Homo sapiens: one gene and its partner. The protein of the gene in region 1 interacts with the protein of each later gene in a biochemical or structural test. Each region holds a gene or a part of one and is shown on either strand. Other genes may lie near its edges.

Region 1 (7,959 bases):
AGAGACGGGGTTTCACCAGATTGGCCAGGCTAGTCTCGAACTCCTGACCTCAGGTGATCCACCCACCTTGGCCTCCCAAAGCGCTGGGATTATAGGCTTGAGCCACCGTGCCCGACCTGCTTTGTTTTAATCTTTGTTTTAACAGACTATGAAAGAAAACCCATGCATTCATATCAATACCTACAGCAAAGCATTTGACAAAATTCAACATCTTTTTGTGATGAAAATGCTCAGTAAACTAGCAACAAAAATAACTTTCCCTAACTAGACTAAAGGCATTTATTAAAAACCTACAGCTAACATCATATTTAATGGTGAAAAATTGTTTTTTCTTACAACTCAGAATAAGGCAAGGATGTTTGCTTTCACCACTTCCACTTAATATTGTACTGGAGGTTATAGTCAATGCAATAAGGCAAAGAAAGGAAGAGAGGGAGGGAGGGAGGCAAGGAAAAAAGGAAGAAAGAAAGAAAGTGTGGCATAGTACACAATGAAATACCATTTGACCATAAAAAAGAAAGAAGTCATGTCATTTGTAGCCACATGGAGGTTGCTATATTAAGGTAAATAAGATAGGCACAGGAAGACAAATACCACATGTTCTTGCTCACATGTGAATGCTAAAGAACATTGATATCGTAGACATAGAGAATAGAATGATATATACCAGAAACTGAGAAGGGTGGTGGGTGGATGAAGAAAAGTTGGCTAATGGGTACAAACACACAGTTAGATAGAAGAAATAAATTTTAATGTCTTTTTTTTTTCCTTTTTGTGGAGAGAAGTCTCCATACGTTGCCCAGGATTGTCTCAAACTCCTGGGCTCAAGCAACCCTCCCAGTTTAGCTTCCTAAAGTGCTGAGATTACAGGTGTGAGCCACTGCACCTGGCAAGTTCTAATGTTTTATAGCATGATAAGGTGACTATACTTGGGTGACAATATTTAGCATATTTCAAAGTAACTATTAATAGAAGAGAGGACATGAAATGATACTGACACATAGAAAGGACATATATCCAAGGTGATGGATACCCCAGTTACCCTGACTTAATCATTACCCATTCTATGCATGCAACAAACACTCACATGTACGCCATAAATTATGTAAAATATTATATATTAATAAAAGAAAAAAAATTAGGCCGGGCATGGTGGCTCATGCCTTTAATCCCAGTACTTTGGGAGGCTGAGACAGGAGGATTGCTTGAGCCCAGGAGTTCCAGACCAGCTTGGGCAACATAGTGAGACCCCATCTCTACAAAAATAAAATATTAGCCAGGTGTGGTGGCACACGTCTGTGGTCACAGCTACTCGGGGCTGAGGTGAGAGGATTGCTAGGGGGCTGAGGTGAGAGGATTGCTTGGGGCCAGGAGGTGGAGGCTGCAATGAGCCATGATTGTGCCTCTGCACTCCAGCCTGGGTGACAGAGCAAGACCCTGTCTCAAAAAAATATATATGTCAAAAAATGTATATATGTGTATATATATATTTATGTGTATGTATATATGTGTGTGTGTGTATATATATATATGTTTAAGTTAAAGATGGGGGGAAAAAAAGGAAGGGGCATATAGATTGGAAAGGAAGTATTAAAACTTTGTTTCAGGTGACATGATCCTCTATGTAGAAAATTCTAGCCGGGTGTGGTGGCTCACACCTGTAATCCCAGCACTTTAGGAGGCTGAGGCGGGCGGATCACGAAGCCAGGAGATCGAGACCATCCTGCTAACATGGTGAAACCCTGTCTAAAAATACAAAAAAATTATCTGGGCCTGGTGGCGCGTGCCTGTAGTCCCAGCTACTCGGGAGGCTGAGGCAGGAGAATGGCGTGAGCCCAGGAGGTGGAGCTTGCAGTGAGCTGAGATACCGCCCCTGCACTCCAGCCTGGGTGACAGAGCGAGACTCCGTCTCAAAAAAAAAAAAAAAAAAAAAAGAAAAGAAAATTCCAAGAATGCCACAAAAAGGCTACTAGAATTAATAAGTGAGTTTAGCAAGGTTATAGGACACAGTACAAAGTCAAAATACAAAAATATGTTTTTTTTATATACTAGCAAAGTTCCATTGGAAATCTCTTAAAACAACATTTTCTATTATATGTACCTGCCAGTTCTTAACATTTATTATCAGAAGTAACTAATTAAATTATTCTTTGTCATTCTTCTAGGGGAACTTATGACATTTTAGTAACAAAAGATAATCAAACCCGCTCTGTTGGTCAATATGACAACCGTGGCAGTTTTGGAGAACTAGCTCTGATGTACAACACCCCGAGAGCTGCTACCATTGTTGCTACCTCAGAAGGCTCCCTTTGGGGACTGGTGAGTGAGAGAAATCGTTCCCCTTGCAAGGCACAGTATTAATTCCCTTTCTGTGTCTCTGTCCTTGGGCTGTTGATTTACACTATATCTTACAGCCATCCTGGCTAACACGGTGAAACCCCATCTCTACTAAAAAATACAAAAAAAATAGCCAGGTGTGGTGGTGGGCATGTGTAGTCCCAGCTAGTTGGGAGGCTGAGACAGGAGAATGGCGTGAACTCGGGAGGTGGAGCTTGCAGTGAGCCGAGATCGCGCCACTGTACTCCAGCCTGGGCGACACAGCGAGACTCCGTCTCAAAAAAAAAAGCACTTTATTGTGACATCCTGATGTTAAATTAAGAGTGCTCCTGAAAGAGATACAGTGACTTAAGGATAGGTCACACACTTGGGGACTCAATGATTGAAAAACTCAAGAATAGATTTGTATAGGGGAATAATAAATAATGGGGGCCAGGCACGGTGACTCACACCTGTAATCCCAGCACTTGGGGAGGCCAAGGCGGGAAGATCACTTGAGGTCAGGAGTTCGAGACCAGCCTGAGCAACATGGTAAAACCGTGTCTCTACTAAAAATATGAAAATTGGCCAGTCATGGTGATGGGCGCCTGTAGTCCCAGGAGGCGGAGGTTGCAGTGAGCCAAGATCACGCCACTGCACTCTAGCCTGGGCGACTGAGCAAGACTCCATCTCAAAAAATACAAAATCAAATAATAAGCCTTGGTGCTAACTACTGGTTCAGACCAAGATGGAATAGCCCTATTCCATGCTAGTGTTCTCACTTAAAAACTTAAACACACACACAAACAACTATGGACATAATAGAGCAAACATAGGAAGACTCTGAAAGGTGGAAAGAAGAAGGCAGACTATCTAGGGATATTGGGGCTTGAGGAAAGACATGACAGTGAGTTCCCAGGTTCCCATATATCCCAGATGGGGTGCTGGAAAGCCTGAAATCCAGATCTTCTAACAGGTATATTCAACAAAAGCAAAACTCCATCTCAAAAACAAAACAAAACAAAAGAACGAACAGCTAAACAGAAAATCAGCTAGTGTCAGCTAGGATATAGAAGAACTTAACACCATTAATTAACAAAAGCTATCTGAAATTTATAGAACACTGCACACAGCAACAACAGAATGAACATTTTTTTCAAGCCCATGGAACATTCACCCAAATAGGCCATATCCTGGAATATAAAATAAAACTTAAAAAATGTAAAAGATTTGAAATCAGGCCAACCACAGTGGCTCAAGCCTGTTATCCCAGCACTTTGGGAGGTTGAGGTGGGAGGATTGAGTCCAGGAATTTGAGACCTACCTGGGCAGCATAGTGAGACCACATCTCTATTTAAAATTTTAAGAAATAATGAAAATTTAAAGAAAAAATGAAATCAGAATGTGTTCTCTAACTACAATTGAAAGAAAGAAACTAAAAATCAATAACAGATCTCCAGACACTTAGAAATTAAATAACATTGTTTTTGGTGTGAGCAGGGGCTAACTGCAGCCTTGACCTCCTGAGCTCAAGCAATCCTCCCACCTCAGCCTCCCAAGTAGCTGGGACTACAGGTGTGCACCACCACACCTGTCTTTTTGTTGTTGTTGTTGTTGAGACAGAGTCTCACTATGTTGCTCAGGCTGGTCTTGAACTTCTGGGCTCAAGCAGTCCTCCTGCCTTGGCCTCCCAAAGTGCTGGAATTACAGGCATGAGCCACTGTGCCCAGCCAAATAACACATTCTTTCTTTTTTTTCTTTTTTGAGATGATCTTGGCTCACTGCAACCTCTGCCTCCTGGGTTCAAGCGATTCTCCTACCTCGGCCTCCTGAGTAGCTGGGATTACAGACGTGTGCACATGTGCCACCACGCCCAGCCAATTTTTGTATTTTTAGTAGAAATGGAGTTTCACCATGTTGGCCAGGCTGGTCTCGAACTCCTGACCTCAGGTGATCTGCCCACCTCGGCCTCCCAAAGTGCTGGGATTACAGGCAAGAGCCACCGCACCCGGCCAAATAACCCATTCTTGGATAATCTCTAAGACCAAGTCTCAATGAAAATTGAAAACTGTATATTGAGCTGTAAAACCACCTGCTTTGTGGCTGGGGTATGAGGATTAAATACATGGGCATAAGAGAAGTGACTCCCTTAGTGCCTGGTACAAGGTGGGTGTTCACAGAATGATGGCACAAGCTCCCCATGGCCATGGTGCTACTCACCACCCTTCTTTTCCTGAGACTTCCTTTCCTAAGACTCCTATTCTTTCTATTTCCTTGCCTTTGGCAGTCATTTCCTCTTCTCCTTGCTTTCTTAGGTCAGTGACCTATCAAGATATCCTTTTGGCCTCTACTTTTCTCCTGTTAATTGACTTGCTTTGCAAGCCCAGACTCTTCCAAAGCTTCAATACCACCTCTAGGAAAGTAACTCACAGAAGGTCCTCTCCAGCCTGACTTCTTCTTTGGCCTTGGAAATGCCTTCTGAGGTTGAAGTAGGGAGGATCTGGTGTCGTCACTGAGTTTTTCAAGTTGGATCCTACATTCCTGCTTTTATAATGGGCAGCTGCCATCACGGCCCCTATACGTAGTCTCTTTTGCTTTCTCTTGCTTTATTGAAAGTCAATAGAAGGTTTCCTGGGAAATTCCTGCAGTCACAGGAGAGAGTAGCACTCCTTTTCTCTTTTGAACTTCAGGGGTGTTTGCTTGCCTCTGACCACTTGCTGCCTGTGGGAATTTCCTCTTCACTGCTCGATTGGATGCTCATCAAAGGCTATGTTGATGTCTGGTGCTTTTTTTATATTCTCCACAGCCATGGGAACTGGCCTTGCACCACATGAAAAGAGAGTTTTGGGAAGTGTTAAAGCATGCGTAAAAAGGGGTAGAACCAGCTGGGTGTGGTGACTCATGATGTAATCCCAGTACTTTGGGAGGCCACGGTGGGCAAATCACATGAGCCTAGGAATTCAAGACCAGCATGGGCAACGTGGTGAAACCCTGTCTCTATGAAAAATAAGAAATTAGCTGATGTGGCGGCACATGCCTGTAGTCCCAGCTACTTGGGACGCTGAGTTGGGAGGATCACCTGGGCCTAAGAGGTCAAGGCTGCAGTGAGCTGTGATCATGCCACTACACTCCAGCCTGCTGAGTGACAGAGTGAGACTCTGTCTCAAAAAAAAAAAGTCGCTTGCCGGGCGTAGTGGCTCGTGCCTGTAATCCCAGCACTTCGGAGGCCAAGGTGGGCAGATCACCTGAGGTCAGGAGTTGGAGACCAGCCTGACAAACATGGAGAAACCCTGTCTCTACTAAAAAATACAAAATTAGCTGGGCATGGTGGCGCATGCCTATAATCCTAGCTACTCTGGAAGCCAAGGCAGGAGAATCACTTGAACCTGGGAGACGGAGGTTGCGGTGAGGCAAGATTGCGCCATTGCACTCCAACCTGGTCAACAAGAACGAAACTCCATCTCAAAAAAAAAAAAAGTCGCTGTAAGAGATATTTGTTGTGGTCGGGCACAGTGGCTCACGCCTGTAATACCAGCACTTTGGGAGGCCAAGGCGGGCGGATCATGAGGTCAGGAGATTGAGACCATCCTGGCTAACACGGTGAAACCCCGTCTCTACTAAAAATACAAAAAATTAGCCGGGCGCGGTGGCAGGCGCCTGTAGCCCCAGCTACTCAGGAGGCTGAAGCAGGAGAATGGCGTGAACCAGGGAGGCGGAGCTTGCAGTGAGCCGAGATTGTGCCACTGCACTCCAGCCTGGGTGGCAGAGCGAGACTCTGTCTCAAAAAAGAAAAAAAAAAAGAAAGATATTTGTTGTTTTCTCTTTAGTTAGAAATCTGTTGTTGTTGTTGTTGTTTTTGAGATGGACTCTTGCTCTGTCATCCAGGCTGGAGTCCAGTGGCATTATCTCGGCTCACTGCAACCTCCGCCTCCAGGATTCAAGCAATTCTCCTGCCTCAGCCTCCTGCATAGCTGGGATTATAGGCATGTGCCAACAGTACTGGCTAATTTTTTATATTTTTGGTAGAGATGGGAATTCACCATGTTGGCTAGGCTGGTTTCGAACTCCTGACCTCAAGTGATCCACCCACCTCAGCCTCCCAAAGTGCTGGGATTACAGGCGTGAGCCATGCGCCCAGCCGAAATATTGTTTGCTATTGCAATTGTACTAATCTTTGTTACACTGTAGGTGGATTTGTAAAATATTGGGAGTTAACTTTGCTGCCCTCTGTGTATTTTTTAATATTTATTTATTTATTTATTTTGAGACGGAGTCTCTGTTGCCCAGGCTGGAGTATAGTGGTGTGATCTCGGCTCACTGCATCCTCTGCCTCCAGGGTTCAAGTAATTCTCATGCCTCAGCCTCCCAAGTAGCTGGGACTATAGGTGTACACCACCATGCCCAGCTAATTTTTGTATTTGTAGTAGACACGAGATTTCACCATGTTGGCCAGGCTGGTCTCGAACTCCTGACCTCAAGTGATCCACCCACTTTGGCCTCCCAAAATGCTGGGATTATAGGTGTGAGCCACTGTGCCAGGCCTTTTATTTTATCTATCTATGTATCTATGTATGTGTGTGTGTGTGTCTGTCTGTCTGTCTCTCTGTCTGTCTATATCTATCTATCTATCTATCTATCTATCTATCTATCTATCTATCTATCTTTTGAGACGGTCTCACTCTGTTGGCCAGGCTGGAGTGCAGTGGTGCTCTCACACCTCACTGCAACTTCGCCTCCCAGGGCTCAAGCAATCCTCCCACCTCTGCCTCCCCAGTAACTGGGACCACAAGTGCACGCCACCACGCCTGGCTAATTTTTGTATTTTTTGTACAGATGGGTTTCGCCATGTTGCCCAGGCTGTTCTCAAACTTCTGGGCTCAAACAATCCACCCACCTCCCCACCTCAGCCTCCCAAAGTGCTGGGAATACAGTCGTGAGCCACTGTTCCCAGCCTGTATGGGTTTTTTTTAAATAAATAAATAAAATATTGGGGTTTTCTGTTTTTGTGGGGTTTTTTTGTTTGTTTTTTTTTTTGAGATGGAGTCTCGCTCTGTCTCCCAGGCTAGAGTGCAGTGGTGTGATCTTGGCTCACTGCAACCTCCACCTCCCAGGTTCAAGCGATTCTCCTGTCTCAGCCTCCCTAGTAGCTGGGACTGCAGGCGCGTGCCGCCATGCCCAGCTAATTTTTTGTATTTTTAGTAGAGACGGGGTTTCATTGTGTTAGCCAGGATGGTCTCGATCTCCTGACCTTGTGATCCACCCGCCTCAGCCTCCCAAAGTGCTGGGATTATAGGTGTGAGCCACTGCGTCCAGCCTGTTTTTGTGTTTTAAATAGAGTTGAGGTCTCATTGTGTTGCCCAGGCTGGTCTTGAATTCCTAGCCTCAAGCGATCCTCCTGCCTTGGCCTCCCAAAGTGCAGGGATTACAGGCATGAACCACCACACACAGCCTAAAATATTGTTTTGTTTTTGTTTTTTTCGAGGCAGGGTCTCGCTCTGTTACCCAGGCTGGAGTGCAGTGGCATGATCTCGGCTCACTGCAACCTCTGCCTCCCAGGTTCAAGTGATTCTCCTGTCTCAGCGTCCCAAGAAGCTGGGATTACAGGCGCCCACCACCATGCCTGGCTAATTTTTGTATTTTTAG
Region 2 (7,959 bases), on another chromosome or scaffold:
TGTTTTTTTTTAGAGTCGGAATCTTCACTGTTGCCCAGTTGTCTCTAACTCCTGGACCCAAGCCATCCTCCCACCTCAGCCTCCCACAGTGTTGGAATTACAGACGTGAGCCACTCCACCCAGCCAGTGAAATTATTAAAATTGTTGGACAAATCTAGTCACAACTCTCCCTCCATTGTGAAATTGGAAAAAAATTAGAAATTTTAGAAAAAAGTACACCCTTTGGAACTAGGTAGCGTTCAGATCTCCACACTTCCATTGACTAGTTGCATAGCCTCTCAGAGCTTCAGTTTCCTACTCCATAAGCGTTAGTAACAGTGTTCTTAGGAATCAGTGAAACTATGTGAGGTACTTAACTACAGTATCTAACATGGAGTAGGCAGCTATTACCTAGTAGCTGTAATGATAATAATTTTGGTACATTTTTACATGACTTAAGCATTCTTAAAAGTCTGATGCTTCTGAGTGTAGAGGTTTAGCTATTTCTTTCATAAAGAAGGGGCCTTGAGACTTGTGAGTCTTATCGAAGTCTATTTCTTCAAAGGTGCCAGATGAACTGAAGGATAATGGAAACAATAGCGAGTTTATCTTCTCAGTCACCTGTGAGTCTTCCTTTGAGAGTGGGACTTGCAGAGTGGCTTGGTAGGGTAGAGCTCTTTGTGACTATGCTATTTGGGCAACAGTGAGAGATGGATTGTTTTCAGTACATCAGTCATAAGAGGATATGAGTTCCAACTTTATTTTACCTTAGTCTTGGCAAATAAGTGTGGATTGTGTCTGTATTTCTCAAACTTGTTTAAGGTAGAGCTGGACTGGGTGTTAACAGTGTTAGTTCAGTACAGAGACATGAGCAAATCACTCACTTCCTCTTCAAGATAACACTTTAAAGGTGACACCATTTACAGAAGAAGGCAGTGATTTAAATCAGTTATACTAGCATAGTTTAGAATACTTACACTACCTAGATGGAGTAGATACATTCTAGAAATATTTACCTGTTAAGGACATTTCTTTAGATTTTATTCCATCTTTCCATTAGTTTTCTGATGAAGAGATTATAGTAAACCTTTAAAAATTATATTTGATCAAACTTACAGATTGAGGATAAACCTTTAAAAATTACAGTTGGTCACACTTACAGATTGAGGGTAAAAACATTCCTGACAAAGCTAGGCGAAGAAAGTTGGACTTTTGATGTTCCCTTCTTTTAAAGTTAACATCTGGCACTTGAATAGACTTGGTTATTACTGATGGGGACAGGCATCCATTTGGAAGTAGCTTCCCTCTCTCTTTCCCAGGTTAGGCTGTCTTACTGCTGTAAATGGGGAGAGACGAGAAAGCTGTGGGTGGAAGAAAGTTTGTTTCATAGCCTGGCGCAGTGGCTCACGCCTGTAATCCCAGCACTTTGGGAGGCTGAGGCGGGCGGATCACTTGAGGTCAGGAGTTCAAGACCAGCCTGGCCAACATGGTGAAACCACATCTCTACTAAAAATACAAAAACTAGCCCGGCAGGGTGGCAGGTGCCTGTAATCCCAGCTACTTGGGAGGCTGAGGCAGGAGAATCGCTTGAACCCGGGAGGTGGAGGTTGCAATGAGCCGAGATCATGCCACTGTGCTCCAGTCTGGGCGACAGAGCGAGACTCCGTCTGAAAAAAAAAAAAAAAAAGGTTTGTTTCATGCATCTGTCCTCACTGGTCAGTGGAAGAAAGTTTGTTTCCTGCGTTTGTCCTCATATTTATAGTTTTCTCGTCCACCTACAAGTTGATTGTGACGTTATGAATAGAAGATGAATGGATAATGTGTTTTTGTCAGACCTTGCTGTAAGGATGGACCTGGTACTGAAATACCGTGATTGTATGAACATTTGTGTGGGGCAATGCTGTGTTCAGTGCCTGGGGAATGTGGATATCAGTGTGTTTGTATGATATGGGTGCTAGTATGGGAGAGAAGGAAAACGTGTGAGGTTTTTGACCATTTATGTCACTCTGTAAGCTCTTCTCTGGCTACTTTGGTGCTATAGTAGCAGAGTTGAGTAGTTACAACAGAGACCATGTGATCTGCAAAGCAGAAAATATTTACTATCTGGGCTTTTACAGAAGTTTGCTGACCCTTTTTCTACATAACCAACTGCAGTTATTCACAACAAGAAAGATTAACGTTAATTCTATAATATTATTCAATACCTATTCAACTTTCTCTATTTGTCTCCCAAATATCTTTTATAGTTGATTAAGAAAAATTTTGGACAGAGTAAAATTAAAGTTCACTCAGCACATCATTATGTCTCTTTAGTCTCTATTTTTTCATTCTTTAATTATTCATATGTATAGTTTACATTCACTAAAATTCCGCCATTTTAGTGTAACATTCTCTGAGTTTTGACAGGTGTATACATTCATATATCCACTGCTGCAAACAGGACAGTCCCTTCATCCTCCAGAATTCTTCTGAGCCCTTTTGTACTCAACCGGTTCTCTACCCCCAGACTCTGGAAATTGCTGATCTGTTTTCTGTCTCCATGGTTTTTTGCCTTTTCAAGAATGTTGTAAAAATGGAATCACACGGAATGTAGCCTTTTTATTCATTTGCCCAATGACTAATGATATTAAGTATCTTTTCATCTGATTATTTGTCATTCTTTGATGTCAATTCAAAATCTTTTGCTTAAAAAATGAGTTTTTGTATATACTTTGGAATCAAATACATGATTTGCAGATATTTTCTCCTAGTCTGTTTTTACTTGTCTTAATAATGTCTTTTTTTGTTTGTTTGTTTCGAGATGGAGTTTGGCTCTGTCACCTAGGCTGGAGTACAGTGGTGAGATCTTGGCTCACTGCAACGTCTGCCTCCTGGGTTCAAGTGATTCTCCTGCCTTAACCTCCCGAGTAGCTGGGATTACAGGCACACACCACCACACCCAGCTAATTTTTGTATTTTAGTAGAGATGGGGCTTTTCCATGTTGGCCAGGCTGATCTTGAACTCCTAACCTCAAGTGATCTGCCTGCCTCGGCCTCCCAAAGTGCTGGGATTACAGGCGCGAGCCACTGTGTCTGGCCTTCTTGTCTTAATAATGTCTTTTGAAGAGCAGAAGTTCTTAATTTTTATGATATCCAGTGTTTTTTTGTTTTTTTGTTTTTTCCCTGAGTGGATCATGCTTTTGGTATAATAGTTTAGAAATCTTTGCCTAACTTAAGAGCTCAAAGACTTTCCCCTATATTTCCTCCTACAAGTTATTATTTTTTTTTTTAGAGATGGAGTCTCACTCTGTCATCCAGGCTGGCGTGAGTGAGATCTTGTTCACTGGAATCTCCGCCTCCCGGGTTCAAGTGATTCTCCTGCCTCAGCCTCCTGAGTAGCTGGGATTACAGGCACCCACCACCATGCCTAATTTTTGTATTTTTACTAGTGATGGGGTTTCACCATGTTGACCAGGGTGGTCTGAACTCCTGACCTCAAGTGAGCCACCCACCGCAGCCTCCCAAAGTGCTGGGATTACAGGCGTGAGCTATTGTGCCCGGCTCGCCTAGAAGTTTTATCATTTAAAATTTTATATTTACATTTATTATCTGCTTTGATTTAATTTTCCTAAATGGTGCAAGGTATGCATTGAGTTTATTTTTTTGTGGATGGATTTACAATTTTTCCAGCAACAGTTTTTGAAAAGACTGTCCTTTCTCTGTTGATTACCTTTGTGCCTTTTTTTTTTTGCAAGTTGATCATAAATGTGTGGTTTTGTTTCTGGATTCTCTCTCCTATTCCATTGATCTGTGTCTTTCATTTCTCTATCACCTCACTGTTGATTACTGTCACCTTAGAGTAAGTTTTAAAATCAGGTAGTGTGAGTTATCTTATTATTTTTCAGAATTGTTTTTTGGGTATTTTAGTTGCATTGCCTTTTGTGCATATTTTAGATTCATCTTGCTGTTATCCACAAGTCCTGCTGGGTTTTTCTTTTTCTTTTTTTTCTTTTTTAAGATGAGGTCTCAGCCGGGTGTGGTGGCTCACGCCTGTAATCCTAGCACTTTGGAGGCTGAGGCGGGTGGATCACCTGAGATCAGGAGTTCGAGACCAGCCTGGCTGACATGGCAAAACCCCGTCTCTACTAAAAAATACAAAAAATAGCTGGGCGTGGTGGTGGGCGCCTGTAATCCCAGCTACTTGGGAGGCTGAGACAGGAGAATTGCTTTAGCCCGGGAGATGGAGGTTACAGTGAGCCGACATTGCGCCACTTTACTCCAGCCTGGGTGATAGAACGAGAGTCCGTCTTAAAAAAACAAAAAAAGATAGGGTCTCACTCAGTTGTCCAGTGTGGAATGCAGTGGTAGGATAACCACTCACTGCAGCCTTGATCTCCTGGGCCCAAGCGATTCTCCCACGTCAGCCTCCCAAGTAGTTGGGATCACAGTCATGCACTACCTGGCTAATTTTTTTATTTTTGTAGAGACAGAGTCTCTCTATGTTGCCCAGGCTGGCCTCAAACTCCCGGGATGAAGTGATCCTCCCACTGTGGCCTCCCAAAGTGTAGGGATTACAGGCATGACCCACCATGCCCAGCCTGCTGTGGTTTTTGATTGGCATTGTGTTGAAGCTGGAAATCAGTTAGGGGGCAATTGACATTTTAATAATGAGCCATGAACATGGTATATCTATTTAGACCTTAGATTTTTGATTAGTGTTTTGTAGTTTTTAGCAATTGGATCTTGCATGTGTTTTGTAATCTTATACATGTATTTCATGTATTCTGGTGTTGTTGTGAATGATACTTCTCAATTTCCAGTTGCTCATTGCTGGTATATAGAAAGATCATTTTATATTATTTGCTGACCTTGGATCCTACACCCTTGCTAAACTCATTTTTAGTAATAGAAGCTTTTTTTGTAGATTTTTGGAATTTTCTGCATAGACATTATTGTCATTGGCAAATAAGGGCAGTTTGATTTCTTCGTTTTCACTTTGTATACTTTCATTTCCTTTTTTTTTTTTTGAGATAGAGACTCGCTCTGTCACCCAGGCTGGAGTGCAGTGGTGCGATCTCAGCTCACTGCAACCTGTGGCCCCCCAGGTTCAAGTGATTCTCGTGCCTCAGCCTCCTAAGTAGCTGGGATTACAGGTGCATGTTGTCATGCCCGGCTAATTTTTGTATTTTTTTTTTTTTAAGTGGAGACTGGGTTTCACCATGTTGGCCAGGCTGGTCTCAAACTCCTGACCACAAGTGATCCGCCAGCCTCAGCCTCCCAAAGTGCTAGGATTACAGGCGTGAGCTACAGCGCTGGGCGTGATTTCTTTTTGTTACTTTGCTGAACTATCTAGGACCCTCAGTGTAATGTGTAATAGGAGTTTTACAAGTGGACATCCTTTCCTTTTTCCTGATGTTAGAGGGGAAAACACTGAGTGTTTGACCATTAATATGATGGTAGCCATAGGTGTTTGTTTTTGTAGATGTCTTTTATCAAGTTGAGGAAATTGTCTTCTATGTTTAGTTTGCTGAGAGTTTTTATCATGAATAGATATTGAATGTTGTCAAAGGTTTTTCTGTATTTATTGACATAATCATATGTTTTTTCTTCTTTAGTCTGGTGTAATACGTTGAAATAGCTTTGCATTCTTGTGATAATACTCATTTAGTCGTGATGTATTATTTTTTACATGTCTTTGGGTTCCATTTGCTACTGAATCTTTTTTTATTTCTTCCATTTGTTTCCCGTTATGTTCATTTTAAAAATAGGTTCTTGATCATATGTATAATATTCATGATAGTTGTTGAGTCCTTATCTGTTAAATGTCAGATGTCTCCTTGGGGGTAAAGTTATTTCAAACACAAGAACCATTGCTTTAAAGAGTATCATACTTTGTTTTGGCAAGTTAAGTTGCCAAACTTATGTGTGTAAGTTGCTTGTTACACCCCATTACTAAGGCATGAAGCTCCTGTAGTTTTCATTGAAGAATTGGGCTCTCCTTGAGGACTCTATTCTGGCAGTTGAGAACACAAATGTCTCCCAGCCCTGTGTGAACTTTGGAGATCATTTAGCTTACAGTTCCTGGGTGATTCTTTGCGTGCCCTCATGTATTTTTACAATATGCATGCTTGGCTTACTACTGGGTGTGAGACTCATGGGGCCTCTATGCTGATTTCTGGAGCTCCTTTTTCATACAGCTCCCTCCTCTTCTCTCGTACTCTGCAATTTTCAAACTCCTTAGCCTTCCCAAGCTATGTTTGTTTTCTAAACTTGACAAGGCTGTCATGTTGTGCTTGATCCTCCTCATTGCACCATGGTCTAGAAGGTACCTCCAGCCAGAAAGCTGGGGCGATTTTAGGGCTTATCTCATTTGTTCCCTTCTCTTTGGGACTGCAGTTCTGTGCTACCTGTTGTTCAGGCTCTAAAGGATGCTGCCTCATGCATTTTGTCCACTTTTCTAGTAGTTAGGGAGGATGCCAGGATAAATCTGGATCCAGTTACTCCGTCATGGTTAGCAGCTGAAGTCCTTTGGGTGAGTATGCTTTGTTGGTGGTTCTTAAAATTTCATTACAGGATTCTCAAAATCTTTGGGGGTATAAATAACAAAGAAGTATTTGTTGACTATCTTCTGACAGTAGCTCAGCCATTGCTTTGTGGGAAATACAAAACAATGTAGGTATCTTTTAGTTGAAGAGGCACATGGTACATACCTAAGATTAATCAAAGAAATGAATTGCTATGGTGATGAACAGAAAGAGAAGGATCACTATAATCTATTATTTTCTGTCCCCCCGTGGGGGAGTCTTCCAGTGAAAAGCAGAAAACCTGCTAGACAGATTCTAAAAGATCTGTAACACTTGTGATCTGGTGTTTTCATGTAGAAATGCTTGCTTTTGCGTTTTTGTTTCTTAGCATATATGCTTTATGTCGCAAGTTGTAGTGAGTCAGTGGGTAGAGTGCTGGCTCTTTCAGGTGCATTTGCTATTTATTTACTATGCAGCTTTAGGTAAGTTATTTGTCTCTGAAATCTAATCTTCTCTTTTCTCTTGGCAAATGGTTATATGACATACCTTGTAGGGTTGTTTGTTAATTTTTTCAAGTATCTTTTGTTTGTCAGGCACGGTTCTAGGTAATGGGAATTCAGTGACATCTGTAGTTGCTGCCGTTAATCTATATCCTATTGAGGGAAGTAGAAAATAAACGAGTGAACAAACAATTGCAGTCATGTCTGGTGGTGATGATTCTAGGAAGGATATGAAGAGTATTAGCAGAGATTGGGGAGGTCAGACAAGGCCTTACTGAGGAGGTGAGATTTGAACAGACCTGAAGAAAGTCAAGGGAGCAAGTCACATGAAGATTCAGAGGAAGTATGGAAGGAACATCAAGTGCAAAGGACCTGAGATGGGAGAATGAACAGGGAGCCTGGTGTGGCTGGAATGGGTGAGAAAGAGCGTGAGGAGATAAGGTTTGTATGTGTAGCCAGAGACCAGATCAAATAGGCTCTTAGGTATGGTGGGAAACAGCTGAAGGATTTGAGCAAGGCATGACAAGGTTGATTTAGGCTTTAAAAACTTTACTCTTGGCATAGGGAGCAGTAGTGGAAACGGAGAGACTAGTTAAGAGATTTGCAGTCGTTCAGGCTAGAGAAGATGGTGGCTTGGATTAGGGTGGTAGCAGCGAAAGTGGTGAGAAGCGGTTTGAATCCATATACGCTGAAAATAGAACTATAGGATTACTTACAGATTGGAAAAAGGTTCTAAAGGAAAGAAAGAAATTAAGGAGGATTCCTAGGTGTTTTACCTGAACAACTGGGTAAATGGGGAAGATGTGGAATCAGTTTGCTGAGAGGTTGAAATTGTGATTTCCCTGTTGACATGCTAAGTTTGAGATCTGTGAAATTTTTAAGTGAAGGTATCAGTAAGCATTTGGATATACAGTTCTGGAGTTCAGTGATGGTCTGGACTGGGTGTATGAATTAGAGAATTGTAGATAGAGAAGGGA

Evidence for each region.
Region 2: the proteins of PRKAR2A (region 1) and AKAP13 form a complex in vitro, tested with the Homo sapiens proteins (3 studies listed by BioGRID, with this or other methods).

The regions. Positions count from the first base shown.
Region 1 is NC_000003.12:48,767,315-48,775,273, reverse strand, and holds part of PRKAR2A (cAMP-dependent protein kinase type II-alpha regulatory subunit), read left to right. Parts: intron 1-2,165; coding exon 2,166-2,319; intron 2,320-7,959. UniProt on the Homo sapiens protein: Regulatory subunit of the cAMP-dependent protein kinases involved in cAMP signaling in cells. Type II regulatory chains mediate membrane association by binding to anchoring proteins, including the MAP2 kinase.
Region 2 is NC_000015.10:85,383,068-85,391,026, forward strand, and holds part of AKAP13 (A-kinase anchor protein 13), read left to right. Parts: intron 1-608; exon of another isoform or gene 609-668; intron 669-995; exon of another isoform or gene 996-1,043; intron 1,044-1,139; exon of another isoform or gene 1,140-1,330; intron 1,331-7,959. UniProt on the Homo sapiens protein: Scaffold protein that plays an important role in assembling signaling complexes downstream of several types of G protein-coupled receptors.